Regions from separate parts of the Homo sapiens genome. Here regions 2 and 3 are each linked to region 1. Evidence: fine-mapped expression QTL. A gene starts in region 1. Each other region holds a variant in brackets. All regions are shown on one strand. Distances are between the middles of the regions.

What was found. PIP is the estimated chance that this variant, and not a neighbour inherited with it, causes the effect. A credible set is the group of variants that fine-mapping cannot tell apart.
Region 2: its variant is the best candidate, but not a certain one, in a credible set for the expression of LINGO4 in lung (TOPMed, PIP 0.81).
Region 3: its variant is the best candidate, but not a certain one, in a credible set for the expression of LINGO4 in whole blood (TOPMed, PIP 0.78).

Annotation. Positions count from the first base shown.
Region 1 is chr1:151,802,984-151,809,819 of GRCh38, forward strand. LINGO4 (leucine rich repeat and Ig domain containing 4) reads right to left here and starts at 2,436. Exons shown (of 2, transcript NM_001004432.4): 1 at 2,247-2,436. It overlaps RORC (RAR related orphan receptor C), which reads right to left. Exons shown (of 11, transcript NM_005060.4): 11 at 3,088-4,650. The coding sequence ends at 4,489. RefSeq lists an enhancer at 5,863-6,363.
Region 2 is chr1:151,404,250-151,411,085 of GRCh38, forward strand. It overlaps POGZ (pogo transposable element derived with ZNF domain), which reads right to left. Exons shown (of 19, transcript NM_015100.4): 13 at 4,445-4,579; 14 at 4,160-4,332; 15 at 3,851-3,991; 16 at 2,986-3,042; 17 at 2,662-2,774; 18 at 2,358-2,382; 19 at 1-2,215. The coding sequence ends at 553. Among named protein-coding and RNA genes, the nearest start is that of PSMB4, 8.1 kb to the left of the region's middle. The variant T/C (reference allele first, on the strand shown) is at 3,093.
Region 3 is chr1:151,368,041-151,374,876 of GRCh38, forward strand. SELENBP1 (selenium binding protein 1) reads right to left here and starts at 4,665. Exons shown (of 12, transcript NM_003944.4): 1 at 4,598-4,665; 2 at 1,673-1,729; 3 at 1,402-1,514; 4 at 964-1,149; 5 at 159-279. The coding sequence starts at 4,601. RefSeq lists enhancers at 1,930-2,601, 2,602-3,272, 4,019-4,602, 4,603-5,186. The variant C/G (reference allele first, on the strand shown) is at 2,930.

The sequences.
Region 1 (6,836 bases):
CCTGATTTCTGTGGGGAAAAAGCTTATGGGAATGGGGCAGGGAACAGCAGGGAGGTACTGAGTCTTTCTGTATGGGGTTTCCTGATGTCTGTGAGATCCAGGAGGATCTCAGGTCCCTTCTCCCTGATACCTGCTCTTCCCAAGCTCTGCTCTGTCCCTCTCTGCTCACGCTTATTCTTTCACATTATGTACCCATAGTTTTGCTTAAGGCTCAGGGAGATCATGTCCTTGGCCCAGAGTTCCCTGTCCTGACTGGAGAGGTCCTCACCTTGACTAGCTCACCCAAGGCTGGGAAACATGCAGGCCTCAGCTCCACCCCCATGCTGAGCCCTCTTCCAGCCTGGCCCAGGGCCTGAGCCCTGGACTAACAAGATCCAATCTCCCCAAAATGCCTGTGTGGACAACTGCCAAGCTGTACATTAGCTGTGGCATAGGATGCAGGAGGCACTTGACTGGGAAGCTGGGAATCCCCTGCAAGAGCCCAGGGGCAACTGCTTCTCTACTGCAATTGAAGTTGGGGTGTGTGAGAGACCCAAAGGATGCCCAGGTTTTGAGTTCTGTTGCTTGGTCTTCAGTCTTGGGCTTCCCTCATATCCCTCCTTAATGGTGTTTGGATTCTGGTCCAGTGTGTGGATCTGAGGGAGAGCTCTTGTCCCTTTTGGCCTGAGCTGCCTGAGAAATTCCCAAGAGACAGATTGTGGACCAGGGAGCATAGATAAGTGAGGAGAGACAGCATCTGACCAAGTGCTGTAGGATGGGGAGGAAGGGAGCCGTTGGCTGGCACAGCAGGTATCTGGGCACAGACAGTGTGCAGAGCCTGTAGACTTATAGTCAGTTTCTGGGTACCAGGTTCCGGGAACCCTCAGGAAGATGGTGACTACAATGGCTGAGGTGACAGAGGAGAAGGGGCCCTCTAGGTGATGAGGGCCCCTGACTCATCCTGTTAGATGTCAACAGGGACCCCAAGGCAGAGGAAGTACTGGAATTGGCAAGGGATGGCTACAGAGATAGGAGCAAAAGCCCATGGATGCTCTCTGGGATACAGCGCGTCTGAGTCTCTGCTGAGCGGCAATCCTGATCACCTTTGGGCTTGTGGGCTTCAGGCTCTCTGGGCTCTACAGGGTCAGCTTTCTACTACATGCCCTGTTTTTTCTCATGTGGAACTTAGGAGAGGCAGTTTAAGAGATGGTCATTTCTTCCCCTTTCCTTCCCACTCTCCACCTCCTAGAAGGATCATTCTAGTGGCTATCCTACAGCCACTTGAGAGGATTGTCCTAGTTGGGAAACTAAAGAAAGAGGCCAAAAGAGCAGAGGGATGCAGAAAACTGGTGTGAGGCTTGGGGATGAAAAAGAATAACGTGGGGCAAAGACTGCAGAGCAGACTCTTCTCGCCCCAAACTGACCTAACAGGTCTCTGTGGCATGCCCAGAGCTCTCCCGGGAAAGATGGCCCAGCCTCCCTTGTTCTCCCTAGGCTTGTTCTGGGAAGTCCACCTGACAGCTAGCTCTTCATCACTACTGCTGCAGTTCCTGCCCATCCTCGCTCTGCATTCAGCAAAAGTGCAGTGAAGCATGTAACCCAGCTTTCTTCCTTCCTGCTCCTGTGAGTTTCCCCTGAGTCCGCTGGGCCAGGGGCTGAGGGAGCTGGAGCAACCTATTTTATTTCTAAGGTGGCTAATTTAATCACAAATTTCCCTTGCCAACCTCCATGGCTGCAGGACCGGCTTCCGGCCACTTTGCAGGAAGCGAGATGTCAGAACCACTTTTTTGTCCCTTCAGTGGGGTGGGGACATCACCAAGACATGACCCTTGAAGGCATCACCCCTCAAGGGTAGGGAGCCTTTTTCTTGTCTTTATGTGGCAGTCCAGAGACACTTTTGAACCTGGGTATCCTGTATCCTCTTTAAAGCACACCTGACTGACAAATGGGAACTGTGTGGGGAGAGGGTTCCTGGGGGAAAGATTTCTGGAAGATCCACACCGATTGTGGAGAAAAACCCTTCCAGAGGAAGGGGAAGCACTGGGGAGATGGAAGGGAGGTCTCCTTGGAGCCCTTCCACCCAGGGGTACTTGGGATATTTGAGTTTCCCCCTCAAAGTCCCATGGGGCCAGGATTAATTGTTAGCAGTGTGGGGGCCCAAACCCTCTTGCCTTGAGGGGCCTGTCTGGCCCCTAGTCTGGCCTGTCTCGGAGAATGTTATGGAAAAGGGCGGCTGCATCTTTGGGACAGAGAGTGGGGGCACTTACCGGAGAAGCTGGAAGGTGGCATCAAGTTTGGCACTGCATCTGTCCAGCGCTGGGGGCCCTGTCCCATTCGAGCTGCACCTCAGGCCCCTGCACCTTCCCTGTGTGCCTCAACCCCCGCTGCCTGGCTGCCCGGCTGCTGCCTGCCGCTGCTGCTGCTGCTGTTGCTGCTGCGGCCGCTGCTGCCAAGACTGAGGTGGAGAAAAGAGCCAGAAAGCATTTCTCCTTTTTTTTTTTCCTCTCTCTCTCTCTCTCTTTTTAAACCAGGCAAGAATGAGTCTGCAGCAACCCTGTTGGTGCAAAATAAATAAATAAAGCAACCAGGGAGGGCTGCAGCAAGCACCACTACAGGCTGGCAAGTGACAGGGGAGGGAGCCAGGAGGGAGGCTCTGGTGCCAGGGAGGGGTCATGCAATAGCAAGAACAGCAGGTTCTAGAGGATCTCTCTGACATCCTGATTCCCCCACTGGGGAGCTTGGGCCAGCCACCTTCCAGAGGACTGTCTTTTGGTCTCCCAGATGTGGAGCAATTCTGTGCAACCTCTAAATCTAAACGTTCCCCGTGGGTATCATTTATGGGAAGTTCTCAGTCTAGAGCATCTCCCGTGGGGCTCAGTTTGAGGCTCCTACAGTGGGGGTTCCTGAAGATTCGTTCACAGTCCTCACTGAGGGACTGCTCCACCTGGGGAGAAACTGCAGGGGTCGGGTGAGGGTGGGTTGGATCTGTATAATGCTGATGGATTGCTGAGCTGGAAACCTGAGTCTTGACCCAGGAATGAGACTGGAGAGCAGGCATGCAGGTAATCTAATTTAAGAATCTCCCCCACCCTCTGACACACACACTTCTTGCCTTTAAAATCATTTTATAAAGAATGGCACAAGTTGGGGTTTATGTTTACTCAGATGAACCCGTCCCCTTAGAGGACACAATCCCACCCCCAACCCCCCCAACTCCACGACTGCCCATCATTGCTGTTAATCCCTCAGGGGAGGGTTCACAGCTGTTTATGAAGCCAAGAGAGGTTCTGGGCAAGATCACAGCTGGGGAAACAGGCCCAGGCCCTGCTCCCTGGTGTCCTCCATGCTGGAGTCAGCGGTGCCCAATGACGGGGTGATGTGATCACATCTGCTTCCTTCTCCACAACAAGAGCAGGGCTGGCGGGCAGGCCAGGAAAGTCCTCCAGGATCTGATCTTGCCTTCCGACTGACCAGTGCGAGCGACTTCTGCTTCTCTTGGGTCTTCTAGTGGTAGAAGACAGCTGGAGCTGGGGTGGTATTTGGATCACCCCAGACCCAAGATCAGTGGACTGGAGCACCATGGAAATGTTTGGGAGGGTCCCTCAGGATTGGGACTTTCCCCTGAGGCCTCTAGGCTCCTCCAAGCTGTGGCCTCAAGGATAAGAGAGATTGTGTCAGGTTCATGTGTCTCTGGAACTGCATGATTGCTGTTGAGTCTGTATGTGTTTCACCTGTGTATGGATATGTGTCTCTGATCAGATTTGTGCCAGCCCCTAAAGTCTATCTTTAAAGTGCACATAAGAGGTTTGAGTTTTAACTCTATGTCTGAGATGCTCTTGGCCTTCATTGTACCCTAGTCCCACACCCAAATCCCATAAAACAATTATCTCCAGCCTCTCATCCTCATCCCATCCATTTTTGGTTAGACCCCAGGTAAAGGGTAGGGTGCCCAAATACTTCCTTGCTGAGCTGGGAGGAAGGCAGAGGCAGAAAATGTAAAGCTCCAGATTCATTTTATACAGGTCCTTCTGGGCTCTCACTGCCAGTCTCTGAGCTTGATCCATCTCCCCAAGCCGAAGCCCAAAGGGAAATGCAATGAGGTATTTCAAAGGCTTATTCTTAGCTTCTGAGCTTCTGAATGAATTGCATTCTATTCATCCAGGGAGCCCTGGATGCCCCTGTTTTCTTGAGGATGTCTTGGTCCCCCAGAAGTCCTTAAATCCCAGCCACCCCATGCCTTCCAGAAGCTGGGTGTGAAGGAATATGGGAAATGAGACAGGTCAAAGCTGAGGCTGGAGATGGTGTTCTGCCAGCCCCACCCTCTGGCGATTGTCCCACTGCCAGGCCGGCCTGCTGACAGAAAGCCAGCCGCAGCATCTGCTCACTTCCAAAGAGCTGGTGGGGACCACCCTCCAGGGTTCATGGGAAAGGAAAAGGGTGAGGGTGGAACGGGGTCCAGGGAGGTGGGCCAGCAGGCCATAGGGAGAGGCAAGGAGTCCCTCTTCCAGGTCACTTGGACAGCCCCACAGGTGACTCGGTTTCAGTGCTGAAGAGCTCCTTGTAGAGTGGAGGGAAAGCGGCTTGGACCACGATGGGGTGGAGGTGCTGGAAGATCTGCAGCCTTTCCACATGCTGGCTACACAGGCTCCGAAGCTTCCCCTTGGGTGGCAGCTGGATATGGGTTAATGGGGAAGGGAGGGTCAATACTTCAGCTCTCCTCAGAGCAAAGAAGTCCGCTCATTCTTCCTGGGCTAGGACAAACCCTCCTTGCCTTCCCCTTATGTACTTGGCACTTTGGCACCAGCCAAATCCCACTGGTAGAAGTACGTGTGTGTTCAGGACACTGGAGGGAAGTGAGAGTGGGTGGGGCACAGGTGAATGTTTTCTGGGTGAAGCCCTCAATTTATGTTCCCAATACTTCTAGAATGAACCTTGTCAAAGACTCTAATGTGCACTTCCTGCTTTTATAAGAGTGATTGTCTGTGACTCTTGTTGTATGCTGTCACATGCCTCTGCCTTTGTGCATGTTGTTCCCCTCTTCCCATTACTAATCCTTACCCTCTAGTGTCACCTCTCCTAAGACTATTTCCCTAACTGCCTCCCATCTGGATTAAGGGCCCTTCTTTTGGGCTTTCCTCTGTGTAGCACTTACTACATTGCAGGAAAATGGTCCAATTTGTCTGCCTTCCCACCCTAGATTTCAGCTCCTTGGCTGAGGTCTCTCTTTCCCTGTCTCCTCTGTACCTATCATAATGCTTAGCACATGGCACATGCTTAATAACTCTTTGAACTAAACAGACTTTCTAAGCAGGCACCTAACACTGCAAGTAGCAAACCAATGCTGCCAGCACTCAGCCAAAGGGGAGATGAAAAAGGCACAGAAACCAGTGAGCAGACGGAGGCAGGGAGACCTCACTGGAGCAAGGCTGAAAGAACAATTTATCTCTTGCAGTCTCCTCTACAACCAAGAGGCTTAAAAATGTCTCTTGCCTGCCATTGCCTCCCTCCCCCAGCTTAGTTTCCTTGGAAAGAGGCAGTCAGAGAAAAGCAGGCAGCAGGGTGTGATCCCTTCATATCTCCTAGATTCTCTCTCTTCCTCACCACTGCTTTATTCTGAGCTTTTTTGGGCTATGGCAATAGCTTCCTTCATTCATTCAACAAATATTTGTTGAGAACACATCTGGATCTGAGCTAGGCACTGTGATGGCCTCTAGTGATATATCAGATATATCAGTCAATAAAGTATAATCTGTACCTTGATTAAATTTACATTCTGGTGAGGGGCCCAGAAAATAAATATGTAGTGTATCAGATAATAAGTTCTTTAAAGAAAACTAAAGCTTTTTGTATGGGGTTACTGGTCAGGAAAAACCTCTCCCGAATGAAGAGATGGGGTAAGCCATTTGGAAAACTGGGGGAAGAACCCTCCAGGTGACTACAATAGCAGGTACAAAAGCCCTGCGACTGGGTTTGATGTGTTCGAGGAATAGCAAGGAAGCAAGTGTGGCTGCAATGGGTGTTTGAAGGGGCAGTGGAAGATCAAGTGAGAAAAGAAGGCAGGGATCATGTTATGAGCCACTTGACCATGACGCAGACTCTAGATTTGATTCTCGGCATCACAGGCAGCTACAGGAGGGCTGAGAACAGGAGTCAAGGCCAGGTGTGGTGGTTCACGCCTGTAATCCCAACACTTTGGGAGGCCAAGGTGGGCAGATCACCTGAGGTCAGGAGTTCGAGACCAGCCTGGCCAACATGGTGAAACCCTGTCTCTACTAAAAATACAAAAATTAGCCGGGCGTGTAATCCCTGTAATCCAAGCTACTCAGGAGGCTGAGGCAGGACAATCGCTTGAACCTGGGAGGTGGAGGTTGCAGTGAGCCGAGATCACACCACTGCACTCCAGCCTGGGCGACAGAGCAAGTCTGCCTCAAAACAAACAAACAGAACAAACAAACAACAACAACAAAAACAAGAAAAAAACCACAGGAGTAGGGCATGATGAGATTGCATTTTTAAAAGGGCTACCGTGGGTGCGGAGTAGGTGTGGTTGCTACAGGGCAGATGAGGGTGGAACAGGGGCTCAGTTAGGAGGCCTCTCTTAAAGTCCAAGTGAAAGCTGAGAGCTGGTAGGGGCCAGGGTGGTGGTAATAGTAGGGAAGGTGATGTATTTTGAAAGCAGATCCAACCGGATGTGCTTTCCAATTGCTCTCCCAGATTCCTGTCTCTCCTCCTTCAAATCCATCCTGTAGCAGATTAAAGTTCAAGTTCTTGAGAGCACAGACCGTGTAAGTCATTGCTGTATCCTTAACACCCAGCCCTGTGCCTGGCACATAGCAAAGGCCTGCTTGAATAATTAC
Region 2 (6,836 bases), 400 kb before region 1:
AAGACCACAATGAAAAAAGTTTTTTATCCATATATATAATAAACCAGTTTGTGAGCTACATAATTTGTCTTTCCCATCTTCAGAAATGTTCTCACATTAACAATGATTAGATAGCATCATGCCCAAAGACATTGGCCACACAATAAAACAAACAAAAAAACCCAGTACTATGATACAATTGAGGTAAAAGGGGAAACAAAAAAATTTAACATTTGCCCACAAATAATTTTTTTTCTTTTTCTTAATTTTGTCAGAAAAATACCAAACACAGTGATTTAAATTTAAAAAAAAAAAAAGTCACAAAAACCTGTTTTTAGCAGAAGTGAATGACCAATGGGCCAGCTCCTTGGCTCAGACGTGATTACTATTGGTTTTCCTAATTAATCCACAAATCCACAGGGAAGTGTAAGTCAACTTCAGGGGGGAGTGGTGGTATAAAATTAAAAAATAGAAACCAAATACCCCACCTGGTATGCCCCCTTTTCCCTAAGCCCCTTTACCCTCCCTCACATGTTCCCACCCTCACTCCACACCCCCTCATGACCCCAACACTCAAATCTCCATCAGATCTAGGTCAGCTTCTTCAAAGCCATAGAAAGACTCGGTCTCACTTTCACCCTCAAAGAGCTGGTGAAGACTTTCAGGCTCAATTGTCTCTTCAGGAGATGATCTGGGTCGTGGAGTGGAAGACTCAGAATGTTCCCCACTCAGCTTCAGTTGCTCCTCTAGGGAGGCAATTAGCTCCTCCTGCATGTCAGCATTTCTTGTAGGTGAGTTAATGTTGCCATCGGGGCCAGGCAGAACACTAGCCACCAGGAAGGAGCGCTGAACTAGCTCTGGACAGTCCCCAATGACACCTAGCACTTCACCCAGCCAGACAAGCACCAGCTGAAGCAGGACATCAGAATCACATGCAGTATCTGCCATTTCCCGAGCCTGTTCCTTCCATTTTTTATGCAGGAAGTTCTTGACAGTTCTTTTGATGCATACATCTAATGGCTGAATTTTGGAGCTACAGCCTGCTGGGACCACTGCAGGCAAAGTGCTAGAGGCACTAAGCATAGCCAGTACCTCTTCTGACAAGTGAGTGCGATGACAGTCCATCACAAGCATGCCTTTGCTGCGCTGGCAAGCTGTGTGCTTCTGCCACACTCGAGTTGACCACAGCTCCATGATCTCGTCATCACTGTAGCCACTCTCCTTTGCCTCTAGCAATATGGAGTCTGGCATGTTAGCAGGCTGATCCATCTGCCCTCTGTAGAAAACCAGGGTGGGAAGGACAGTGCCATCTGCCAGAATGGCTAGGACTACATCACACCAAGGTTCCCCTGTGCCCACTGTCTGCAGGGCATTCTCCTTTCGATCATCACTGCTCAGCACCTCTGTATCCAGGAACAAAGAGATCTCATCAATAGCCACAATCATAGACAAGGGTAAGTCCTGGTTGTGAATCTGCCGTTGTACAAAATCAATGAAGAGTCCTGCATTCTCTGCTACATCCTTAGGTAGGGTGTGGGCCACAGCTCGCCGGGCATGGGGAGTCAGGTGGTGCCGCAGCATGAAACGCACAGCCCACTCATAGGAGATCTTAAACCCCCCTTCCAAAGAACGTCCTATTTTGGTGGCCTTCTGGAACAAGGTCTCCTCATTTACAGGTAGCTGTTGTTCGCGCTGGGTTAGCACCCACTCAGCCAGTTTCTCTTCTGCCTCAAAGCTCAGATATTTGCCCTCTAGATTCTCCCCCTGGGAGGCCTGGAAACGTCGAAGCCAACGGCGAATACGTCGCTGGGGATTTCGGAAGTGTTCAGCTGCCTGTTCTGTATTGCAGCATAGAGCAAACAGTACTACTCGAAGCTTCTTCACAGACAGCTGCTCCTTTTTGCCAACTCCACCACTACCACCACCACCTGATGCTAGCTCAGGTTCTTGGGTGACTGGGCTCCCTTCATCCTGATCATCAACATTCAGACATTCGGCTCCCTCTGTAGCCAGCGGTGGAAGGGCTAAAGCCTGCGGGTGAGTGGGGGTTGGTGGTGGGGTTGCAGTTGAGGCTGGTGATGGGAGTGCTGGGGCTAAGGGAGTTAGTAGCTCTTCAGGCTCAGCTGGGGTGGCCCCCGCAGATTTCACAGTGGCAGCTTTGTTAGTGGGGAAGGAAGGAGGAGGGTACATATTCTTCACGTTCCGGTCATGCACTCGGTCACGAGTCTGGCCATGCCTAAAGGGGTGAGGAGCAAAGAGAAGAGGAGAAATCTCAGTTCAACTAGGAAATTGAAACAATAATATGATAATAATAATAATAATAACAGAGTAAACACACTGCAAACCAGAAATTAAATTGTGAGGTGAGTTTTTGTTACCTTGAGTGAGCTATCCAAGTGAGTCCTATGGAAAATGAAACAACAAAAATAGTTAGCTCAGTGAAAAAATAAGCCCTCCAAAGACAGTGCCCTGGGATTCAACTTACTACATACAAATACGCTGTTCGCAGTGACCAGCTTTCCCAGTTTTATATAAACTTCAGGTCGGAAGGTTTCTAATTAGGTCCAGCACATCTCAACAGTGAATGAGTGAGGCCAAGTAGGTATGCTCCTGATGCATACAGTACGAACCTGTATCTTTTTTCCTCCCCTTGCTCAACTAATCCCCTTCTCTCCTACTTACCCCGTGGCAGGATGCTGCTGGATCTGTGAGAGGGGTTGAATACCAAATGCTTGGCCATAGCATCGCCCACAGAGGTAACAAAGGTACATGAAGTGCAGGCCAGCTTGATTCCACTAAAAAAGAGAATTGAGACTATGTAAGACAAACACAGCAGTGACACTTGAGACCATTAAGCTTTGAGGCTTAAGAAAGAAAAGGAATGCCCTCCCACTTTCTCCTTTTTCTGAAATTAATTCACATAACCACCTCTCCAAATAATGAAAAACCTGAAAATTAATGTAAAAACCTGAAAAATTAAGATGCTGCCAATAAGTTTTTTCTTACCTCACAGAATTTTTAAACAAAGCCAAATACTTGGGGCTCTTCCGTGGAACATGATTGCTGAGAAAGACAAAGAAGTGGTATGAGTTACGGAGTTCTGCTGGCTAAGC[T/C]AGAGATCACCAGCCAGTGACAATGCCCCCAACAAAAGAGACACTTCTTCAGTGCACCCTAATCTCAACCTAAGCCAGTTTTCCTGTCACCATGCTTCTTAAACTTTAATATGCATACAAGTCACTGAGGATCTATTAAAATTCACATTCTGGTTCAGTAGGCCTAGGGCGGGGCTGAGAGTCAGCATTTCTAACAAGCTCCCACCTAATACTACTGGTACTTGAATAGCAAGGCCCTATGAAATTAGAGCACAGACCATCAAAACCGAAAAAACAGAGCCTCTCACTCTGCTAGGAGAGAAGAACAAATAGCTCTAAGAGTTGAAGGAGGAAACATATTAGAAGCAGGGGAGAAAATGAAATGAGTGCTCAAGAATCTGGCTGGGGCCGGGCGCAGTGGCTCATGTCTGTAATCCCAGCACTTTAGGGAGGCCGAGGCAGGTGGATCACCTGAGCTCAGGAGTTTGAGACCAGCCTGGCCAACAAGGTGAAACCCCGTCTCTACTAAAAATACAAAAAAATCAGCCAGGCATGGTGGTGCACACCTATAATCCCAGCTACTTGGGAGGCTGAGACAGGAGAATCACTTGAACCCAGGAGGCAGAGGTTGCAGTGAGCCAAGATCATGCTATTGCACTCCAGCCTAGGGGACAGAGTGAGACCCTGTCTTCAAAAAAAAAAAAAAAAAAAGAAGAAGAAGAAGAAGAAAAAAAGAATCTGAACTCTCAAGCTAAAACACTGGTTAAAAACCAACTTACTTGATCATGTGGTTGGCATAAGCTCGAGAACAGCAGGTGCTATAGCGACACAGAGAGCAGTGTACGTAAGTAGGGAAATGATTAGGGAAGTCTGGGATCTCGAAGCTGCACTCCAGGCATGTCTGCCGGCCCATGACACTCCTGTGGGGGAAAAAAAAAAAGAATTCTCATTACTGCCTCATGGGTCCCCAAAATGTAGGATTTTCAGACAACAAACCCTGCTAAAAAGCTACCAGATTGCACTGTGTATCAGGAATAATCCTGGCCACCCAGTCCCCACCCGCCCAGCACTTAGAAGAAGGCGCTGACATTTTCCTAACAGCTCTCTTCTGGATGCTGCGCTGGACAGGGGGATAAAGGAAGACAGGCAGAGGGTCCATTGAGGAGGTCAGCGGTGCTGCCTCCTGCAAGGCGCTGGGAGGTGTATCATTAGAGGATACAGGAACAGTTCGTGGCTGCCCTCGGGAAGCCCGGATTGTCACCTGAGAACCAAGGGAAGTAACAATGAGACATCACCCACACTAAATTTCAGAATACTGAAAATCTCTATTCCTCCCTCCCTGGGCCTATAAAAGACACTGGCAAACTCTTTACCTTGGTGCCTGGTTTCAAGCCCTCCAGCTGCTTGGGTTTACGGAAGGTTTTATGGTGTTGAAGCTTGTGTTCAATTTTGTCCTTGGCAAAGAGAAACTGCAGCCGGCATTTGTTGCAGTGATAAACATTTCTCTTCTGAAGTGGGGGAGGGAAAAAAAGAGACAAAATCCCTTAAAGGTTCCTAATAAATTTTCTTTTTTGAGGAGAAAGCAGATCAATGTCAACCATATCATTCTTCCCACCTTTCTGTTGATAATTTAAGAGAGTAAGAAAGAAATATGCAACATGACCACAAAACCTACCATTGAGAATCATCACCTCCCATGATATCAAAGAAAGATGGATTCTAGTCCAGGATGACTAAGTTCTCAAATCATCCTTTCCTGACTTGTTTTAACAATTTGAATGAGTGATGTAACCTTTATTTGTATTATATCTTTACACTGCTGACAACTGGACATTCTTCTGGACATTCTTCATTCTTCTTTTTTTAAAAAAGGACAATGTACATAGTAAACTAAAGTCATACTTTTTTTTCTATACTCTTCCAACTTTGCTTTCAACTCCAACACTCAGTCCCCTTCCATACAAACAACTTATTACCAGTTTCCTGAGTATGCTTTCGTGGGCAGTCTACACATATAACTGTATCACAAATACATTCATATCCAATCATTACCTGCCTCGCCCCCTTTTTTTGAGACAGGGTCTCTCTCTGTAGCCCAGGCTGGAGTGCAGTGGCATGTTCATAGCTCACTGCACGTCCCAAGTAGCTGGGACTACAGGCACGTGCCACCACGCCCGGCTACTTTTTGTATTTTTTTGTAGAGACGGGGTGTCACCATGTTGCCCAGGCTGGTCTTCAACTCCTGGGTTCAAGTGATCTACCTGCCTTGGCCTCCCAAAGTGTTGGGATTACAGGCGTGCATCACTGTGCCTGGCCCTTACTTTTTTCCCTTTCCTTTTTGTAGAGATGTTGTCTCACCATGTTGCCCAGGCTGGACTCCACCTCCTGGGCTCAAGTGATCCTCCCACCTCAGCCCTCTTCTTTTTCTCCTTTTAACACAAATGATAGCACTTGTCTATACCTTGCTGTTTTCTCACTTAACACATCAGTATATACAGATATGTCTCCTGGTGAGACCACTTTGAGGATTCAGTCTGCCTAGTATTGAAGTCCTTCAAAAATAGAACCCATGTCTATGATTTTCTTTAGTAGGATAACAAAGCTCTGTAAGCTTAGGCTAAGAGACAATTTCCATGCCCCTATTTGGAAATACAGTTGTGGTAGACAATCAGCAGTCACTACTGTGCAAAGGAGACTATGAGTGTAATAGGGTACATATGTTTGTGTGCATATGTATGTGACTATTAAGCACACATGCACTCATCTTATTCTCCATTTTGAATCCTCTCTTATATACTATATACCTTTCACTCTCCTCTAGTGGCTCTCTTCTTGTAGTATTTTAAAACGAAGTCATAGCTTTTCATCTTATAAGGAAAATAAAAGCAATAAAAAACTCTTCTTTGCCACTTCTTCCTCTGGATTTACCTACCCTGGGTCCTCCCTTTTTATAAATAAACTTCTTTAAATACATCGTCTTCATTTCCTTACCTCTCATTCATTTGTTCTGCTGAAATGTGACTTCCACCCTACCAACCAACAAAATGGCTCTCATCAATGTTGCTAAATTAAAGGCCTGTTTCTAAGTCTCTATGTTGCTTGACACCTTCCTGTAACATATGACATTTTGATCACACCCTTTTCTTTAAAACACTTTCTTCTCCCCAGTTTCCTTAAGGTTAAGACTCTTCTGGTTTTCCTCCTAGTACTATGGTGGTTGCTTTATAGATAAGGGACTTCAAATATCCTAAGCCTTCTCTTATTCTCAACAGGGTTGGGGGGCCCATGGTATTTAAGTTTAAAATCTATAGGATTTATATAACGCTGATTCCTAAATCTTTTCTACAACCCAGAGTTCTCTCACAGGCTTGAGATCTATTATCCAACAGCTACACTTGACATCCACAGATACTGCTAACTTACAATATCCAAGCTCATGATCTCCCCCCTCACAAATATACTTTCTCTATTGTTTCTATTTCAGCAAATAGTTCCCTCATTCACCCAACTGCCCAAGACAGAATCTTAGGCACTATTCTTAACTACTGCATTGCTACCTTCACCTAATCCATCTCTACATCATAAATATCACAAATCTTCTGAATATCTCTCAACTCTACCCTCTTTTTATTTCAAAAGCCAATAGCCACTATCATCTCTCACCTAAACTACTGAAAAAGGCCTTCTAGCTAGTTTCCCTAACTGTAGTCTCAATCTCCTTTAATCCATTCTCTGCAGTGCAGGCAGTATAAAGCCTTAACTAAA
Region 3 (6,836 bases), 430 kb before region 1:
CTTGCTAACATTTAAAATACTGGCTGGGATCCAGCTCACTGGTTCTCCTTGGGAAGTCATTCCAACCCTCCCCTTCCATTCTGCTCCTCCCACAGAAAAATGCTTCCCACATTTCACAGCTGTGGAAGTTTTCATGAGCACACAGTGCTGGCAGGTACCTTTGCCATTGCCCTTGACGTCTCCCAGGGAGCTGATCATCACTTCCCCGCTGGCCAGGCAGTGGCTGGTGTGGAGAAAGGCCAGTTCGCACTTGGCATGGATGTCCTTGGGCTCAATGACCTGGAAGGGGTGGGGAATGGTGTCAGAATCATACAGGACTGGGAGTCCCTGCTCTTAACCTCCATACTTCCCCTACTTCTATCTGCTGACTCTGTCATCTTTTCCTTCAAAACATGGACACAACTCTCCCTGTGGGAATATGACAAAGATTCAGTCTGGTAACTTCTACAGAGCAGCAAGGGAAAGTCAGAGAGATTGCTAATAACTCCCCAGGCAGAAAGCGCTGACCTTTCCCCATGTGTCCTGAAGGCACACGCAGCCCTGTGAAACCATAAGCTCCTCCCAGGCTGGCCTACACCAGTGTCAACTCTGTATTACCAGTAGACAACACAGTAAATGCCTGGCACCAAAAGTGCACTAAACAAAGTGTTGGGAGAGACCGGAATTTTTAAGAGAACCCTGAGCTCCTAACTGCATGGGGGAATAAATGGCTCCCTCCCTCTCTCAGAGTAAAACAAGAAGCCTTGTCCCTCTTCTCCCATGCCCTGGTCACCGTGCTGGAGGGTGATGACCCAGAATGCCTGGGTAGACTCTGCTCTGAGGTCCAACCTCCCTCCCTGCTGCCGAGCCAGTTGCCGCGTAAGAGCTGGAGGCTGCTGGTTTAGGTCTGGCTTCCTGCCCGTAGACTACCTGGGGTGGCAGGTGTCTTATGGTCTACTGAGCTGGCAAGGGCAGAGGACATGCCTTGTGCAGCTTTGGGGCCCGGGGCTCAGAGCCCACGTCCACCACATAGATGCGAGAGGAGATGAGACTGGGCAGCACCAGCTTGGTGCGCGACTTGGTGCTATCACCGAAGCAGCTGCTGCAGGTGTTCCATCCTGAGTGATGCAGCTCGTCCTTCAGGTTGGGCATGGGCAGCCGGTGGATGACCTAGGATGCGGGGAGAGGTGGTGCTCCCCCAGGCCACGCCTCTGTCCACTTTTGGAAGAGGCGCCCTGTGGACTCATTTTGGTTTGGAAGCACGGCACAGGCTGGATTTCAGCACTCCCCTTGTCCCAGGTTGAGCGTGCACAAGCATCCCCAGGGAGGGCCAAGAAGGATGGAGCTGGGAAGGGGGGGCCCAGGGCCAGGGATGAGGGCAGCTATGGTCTCAAAGTAGCTGGCGCCCAAGCCCCGCCTAACCTGGCAATACTGGGGAGACTTGGGGTCAACATCCACAGTGGCCAGATAATCTGGGGCCTCAGTGCCTGTGTTTCGGTAAATGCAGGGCAGGTAGACGATCTCTTCCCTGGGTCCTGCACGGTAGAAAGCAGGCAGCAGGGACGGCAGGGTGGGAAGGAAAGGTAGGGGAAGTGCTGGGTGTGCCAGAGGGTGGGGGCTAGGTCTGAAGTCCCTCCACCCCCAGCTGTGGAATCAGTAGTAGGGCGCTGGCTCTCAGACCATGGGCAATTACCTTTCATGGCCTCCAGAGGGGTGGAGTAGCCGGGTCCACAATTCCCACATTTCGTAGCTGTGGAAGCAATGGGGCGCATTGGCTGGGCCACGCTCTGGAGGGTGAAGGCTCCCTCCGCACGTTCTGCAGCACACATCCCAGCGGGCCACGGCAGTGCGGCTGGCCTAGGTCCCCACTCCAGCCTCATCGCTCTGGCCTGTCCTCTCCGCCCCCTCAGAGCCCTGAGGAGGGTGAGGTTGTGCTGGGAAGAGCTGGAGACACATGACCTGAAGGTGGACAGACAGTCCAGCAGGGCCCCGGGAGGGTGGGAGGAGGGCTGATGCAGCCGGGGTCGTGTGGTGTAGTGAATATGACACGGACTCGGGGCCCAACCCCAGCCCACCACTGACTAGCCAGGGGAGCTTGGGCAAAGTACTGAAGCTCCTCGACCTCAATTTCTGCATCCTCTGTAAAATGGAGATGGTAAGAATTTCACAGTGGGCTTTTACGAGAAGTAAACACGAGGGTGCAGTAGGTGTGCAGCTCTGTGTTTGTCTGGTCGAAGCCCAGGCACCCTTGGCTGTTCTTGAGGAGCTGCTCTCAGGGAGTGGGGTGGCGCCTGCTCAGCTCCCTTCACCAAGATGCTTCTATATCAGGGGGAGGCCACTTCCTGCTTTTCTCTCCCCTGGGTCCTGATCCCAGGCTGCTAGCCAAGGGCTGGATTACATAACCGAGGGTCTGGGGCTAATACCAACTGGAAGTCCTCAGGCTGGTTTCTACCCCTGGGTGTGCCCCACTTCCTTTATCTGTAAAGTAAGGTGTTTGGCCCAACTCTGGAGAGCCCAGAGGCCTGCCCACCAGAGAGATAGGGAGCAACCCTCCCTATCTCTGAAGTCTGGCAAGAGGGGCCATGCTAATCTCCAGGATGTAAGTCAGCAGATGTGCAGTAGGGCTGGGACATCACAGCTACCAGCACCCCAGCATCAGAGTTTGGGGCCTGCTGGGGAGCAGGGGTTAAAGAATACCCAGAGGGGGTGGCAGGCTGAAAGAAACCCTGGAGTGGAGTCCACAGGCCTGGGCCCTGTCTCCTGCCTTGTCCTGTGGCCAGTCCAGCCTCTGCCTTCACAGCTGGGCCGCAAGTGGGGAGCCAGGAGTAGGCAGAGTGGGGCCTCCACTGGGGCCTGGGACTCCCACTCGCAGCAGCCAAGAGACTTAGGAAGCTGAGAGGCAGCAACAGCGTTCAGAGTCTGGAAACCTGGTTTCAAGTCCCAGTTTTGA[C/G]GCCCCGTTTCTCCATTTTCTCCTCTTCATTTACGAAAAGTGGGCAATAATGATATTCTACCTACTTTGCTAGGTAGATATGGAGGACAAATAAGACAATGTATTCCAAAGGCCTTTCATAAAAATGAATTAGGCCGGGTGCGGTGGCTCATGCCTGTAATCCCAGCACTTTGGGAGGCTGAGGCGGAAAGATCACCTAAGGTCAGGAGTTTGAGACCAGCCTCACTAACATGGCAAAACCCTGTCTCTATTAAAAATACAAAAATTACCCTGTATTAAAAATTAGCCTGTATTAAAAAATACAGGCATACACCTGTAATCCCAGCTACTTGGGAGGCTGAGGCAGGAGAATCACTTGAACCTGGGAGGTGGAGGCTGCAGTAAGCCGAAATCACGCCACTGCAGTCACTCCAGCCTGGGCAACAAGAGTGAAATTCTGACTAAAAAAAAAAAAAAATAATGAATTACTGTGTAAATATGGGAAGGGCTGTGCCAGAGGAGAGGAGAATGCCAGGGAGTGCTCGATGCCCAGCGAGAGGGCTGGAGGTGGGGCAGGGAGAGAGAGAGAGGTCCAGTTCACAGGAGTTAAGGAGACTGGTTCTGTTACACAATCTTGCTAAGTCGGGGCTTGGCACCAGATGACAGGGGGTGGGGAAGGAGGTTGCTGGATACAGAAGGGAAAGGAGATTTTAAAACTCCAAGACCTCAAGACAGAGATACAAAAAATACAAAGCTAGGGAGAAGCTGAGAGGGAAGTAAAAGTGCAGAGATGGAGCTGCCCGCTCTGCAGCCTCGGCCCACCCCACACCCCAGCAACCCCAGCCCCAGCATTTCTTAGGGTCAGGCCTGGCATGCCACTGCAGCCCCAGGGAGCATCATTCCTCTTTCTGGGGAATACCCCCATCTGAAACATCTCAAGCAAGGTCTCGGAGCAGCTTTGGGTTTGGGATGGACTCATGGAAAGCTCAAGTGGGTTTTCCATGTCAGGCTGGCTGCTGGGCATTCTGCCAGCTCGGCATTCTGCCAGCTCAAGAGCCAGCCCCGAGCGGGGAAGGACCTCCCAACCAAACCTCAGTTCCTTCTTAGCCTGTCACCCAGAAGCCTACAGATGGAGGAATAGCAGGGCCAAGGGGGATTTAGGGGTGGGGGAGGCATTGAAACAGGTCCCCAGTGAAAGAGTGTGGGGGTCTCTGATTTCCCTCCCAGAGAGCTTTGCTGTGTGGAGTAGCTAGAGAGTGACCTGGGCACAGAAAGGCTTTGGACTCCCTACCTCGCTGGAGTACAAAGTTGGCCCATGGCTGAAATCAGGATCACCTCTCTACTATGTGAGGGCCAGGGACCTAGTGGTGTTTTCTAAGAGCGCCCATCTGATTTTCCCAGCTGCAGAAAGGCACCCTGGTCCCAGCCTCTGCTGGATGGAGCCAAGTCAGGGCCCAGGATCCCATCTCCCAGCAGTGCCTCTGCCCGTCTTCCTCAGAAAGTTTGGCTGAGCTGGGAAATGCAGTGGGGTGGTGGGGGAGGGGGTGTGCAGACTGGGGACAATGAAGCAGAGTCCACTACTCCCTCCCCAGCTCCCCACTCAGGTTTTCTAGCATTTTCTGGAGGAGGGCCTTCCAAATTAGGGGCAGACAGAGCAGGCAATGGGTGATTGGAAACCCCTCTCCTTACCCATGCTGCCGACTGGTACACTTTGATCCCGGCGGGTTTGCTGTGCTGGTGTCAGAGGCCGCTGTTCCGGGGAAGGAGCGAAGGGAGGGAATTTATACAACCAGCTGGGGGTGGGGCAGAGAAGGAGGAGGGCCCGGGCTGTAGCCCAGAGTAAACTACTCAGGGCAGCTGGCCAGGATACTCTCAAGTGGCCTAGGGCAACTGGTGTTTGAATTATGGGGTGTGCGTGTATGTGTTTAAGTGTGTATGTGTGGGAGCCTGTGCTTTATTTATTTATTTATTTATTTAGAGACAGGGTCTCACTCTTGCCCAGGCTGGAGTGCAGTGGTGCGATCTCGGCTCACTGCAACCTCTGCCTCCTGGGTTCAAGTGATTCTCCTGCCTCATCCTCCCGAGTAGCTGGGATTACAGGCACCCACCACCATGCCCAGCAATTTTGTATTTTTAGTAGAGAAGGGATTTCACCATGTTGGCCAGGCTGGTCTCAAACTCCTGACCTCAGGTGATCCACCCGTGTCGGCCTCCCAAAGTGCTGGGATCACAGGTGTGAGCCGCTGCCCCTGACCAGCTCGTGCTCTTTAGTGGGTGCCTGGGTGTGTGTGGATTTGTGTGTCTGGGCATGTGTGTGTTCCTGTATACCTGCGTGTTGCTCGTGCACGTGCCTGCATGAGTGTGTATCTGTGCCTGTGTGTGAATTTCCACGTGTGTGAATGTGCCTGTGAGTGTGCTTGTGTGTATTTGTGCGTGTGTGTGTGTGCGCGCCTCTGTATGTGCCTACCAGAGTATCTACGCCTGTGTGTGTGTGTGTGTGTGTGTGCGCGCCTCTGTGAGTATGTGCTTGCTAGAGTATCTACGCCTGTGTGGACATGTGCATAAGTGCTTGTGTATGTGTAGTGTGTGGCTATGTGGCTGTGCATGTGCTTGTGTAAGCCTGCGCACGTATGTGTTCCTGTGTCTCCAAATGCTCGTCTTTGTATTTGGACCTGTCTCTTAGCATTTAGGGGCACCCGGGACTGTGGGCCCATCAGCCAGGGTCACTTCTTCCCTAAGATTGCCCTCTTATTCCAGATATTCATACTCTTTGGATAAAAGCTCTGGGGTGAAGTTTTTATTGGCTAGGAAAAAGAATAAAGTCTGGGCTTGAGATTGCAAGTAGAATACAGGGTTTCCAAACCAGAGTGGGGGAAGGGGAGCAAAATTGGGCCTTGGTGCATTGGGTATCTGTCTTCCTGGCTCCCATCAGTGAGGGATCATGTGCCCATCAAGGAAGACTCCCTGTGGCTGCCCGGGGCAAGGGTCTTCTCTTATCCCCAGCGCCACTCAACCCCTCTTGGCTCCATCCTGCATCTATTATCCTCACCATTGTGCCATCAGCCTGCCAGGCATCAAAGAGAGTCTTGTGTGTGCAGCTGCCCCACGGGGAAGGCCCTGAAGGCTGCTTCCTTGTCTTTGCCAGCTTCCTCCTGTCCTGACTACCTCCACTCACCCTGCCTTCACCCTTCCCTCTGGCCCTCCCCTCTTCCTCCTCCTGAGGTCTCCATCTCCTGCCTCCTCTCTATTCTCCGGCTTCTTGGCTTGGGTTAGTCCACCACCCAAGATCTGAAAGAGAAAGAAACTTTATCCCCACCTTCTCATAAAAAATTATTGAGTCATTAACTTAAAAAAAAAAAGGCTGTTATTTTGTTTGTTGTGGTCTGTCATTGACTACCTCTTTCATGCTCCTGAGCTCTGACCTGGCTGGTCTCTGCAGCAACTCCATGGCACCCCTCACCTCTGCCTGTGGTTTTCTCCCTGAACTCTTGCTCTACAGCCAGCAGGTGGTTGGGGAAGTTATCCTAATCTGGGCTACAGAGGGAGGCAGTAAAGGTAGAGGGGCGATTCTCCTGCCTCAGCCTCCCGAGTAGCTGGGACTACAGGTGCCCACAACCATACCTGGCTCATTTTTGTATTTTTAGTAGAGACGGGGTTTCACCATGTTGGACAGGCTGGTCTCGAACTCCTGACCTCAAGTGATCCACCCACCTCCGCCTCCCAAAGTGCTGGGATTACAGGCCTGAGACACCGTGCCTGGCTGACCTGGATAATTTTTAAATTTTTTTTGTAGAGATGGGGGGTCTCACTATGTTGCCCAGACTGGTCTCAGACTCTTGGGCTCAAGTGATCTGCCTTGGTCTCCCAAAGTTAATTTTGGATTTTTAAAAAAATAATAAGTACTGCTTTTGTAACTAAAAGCTCAAAT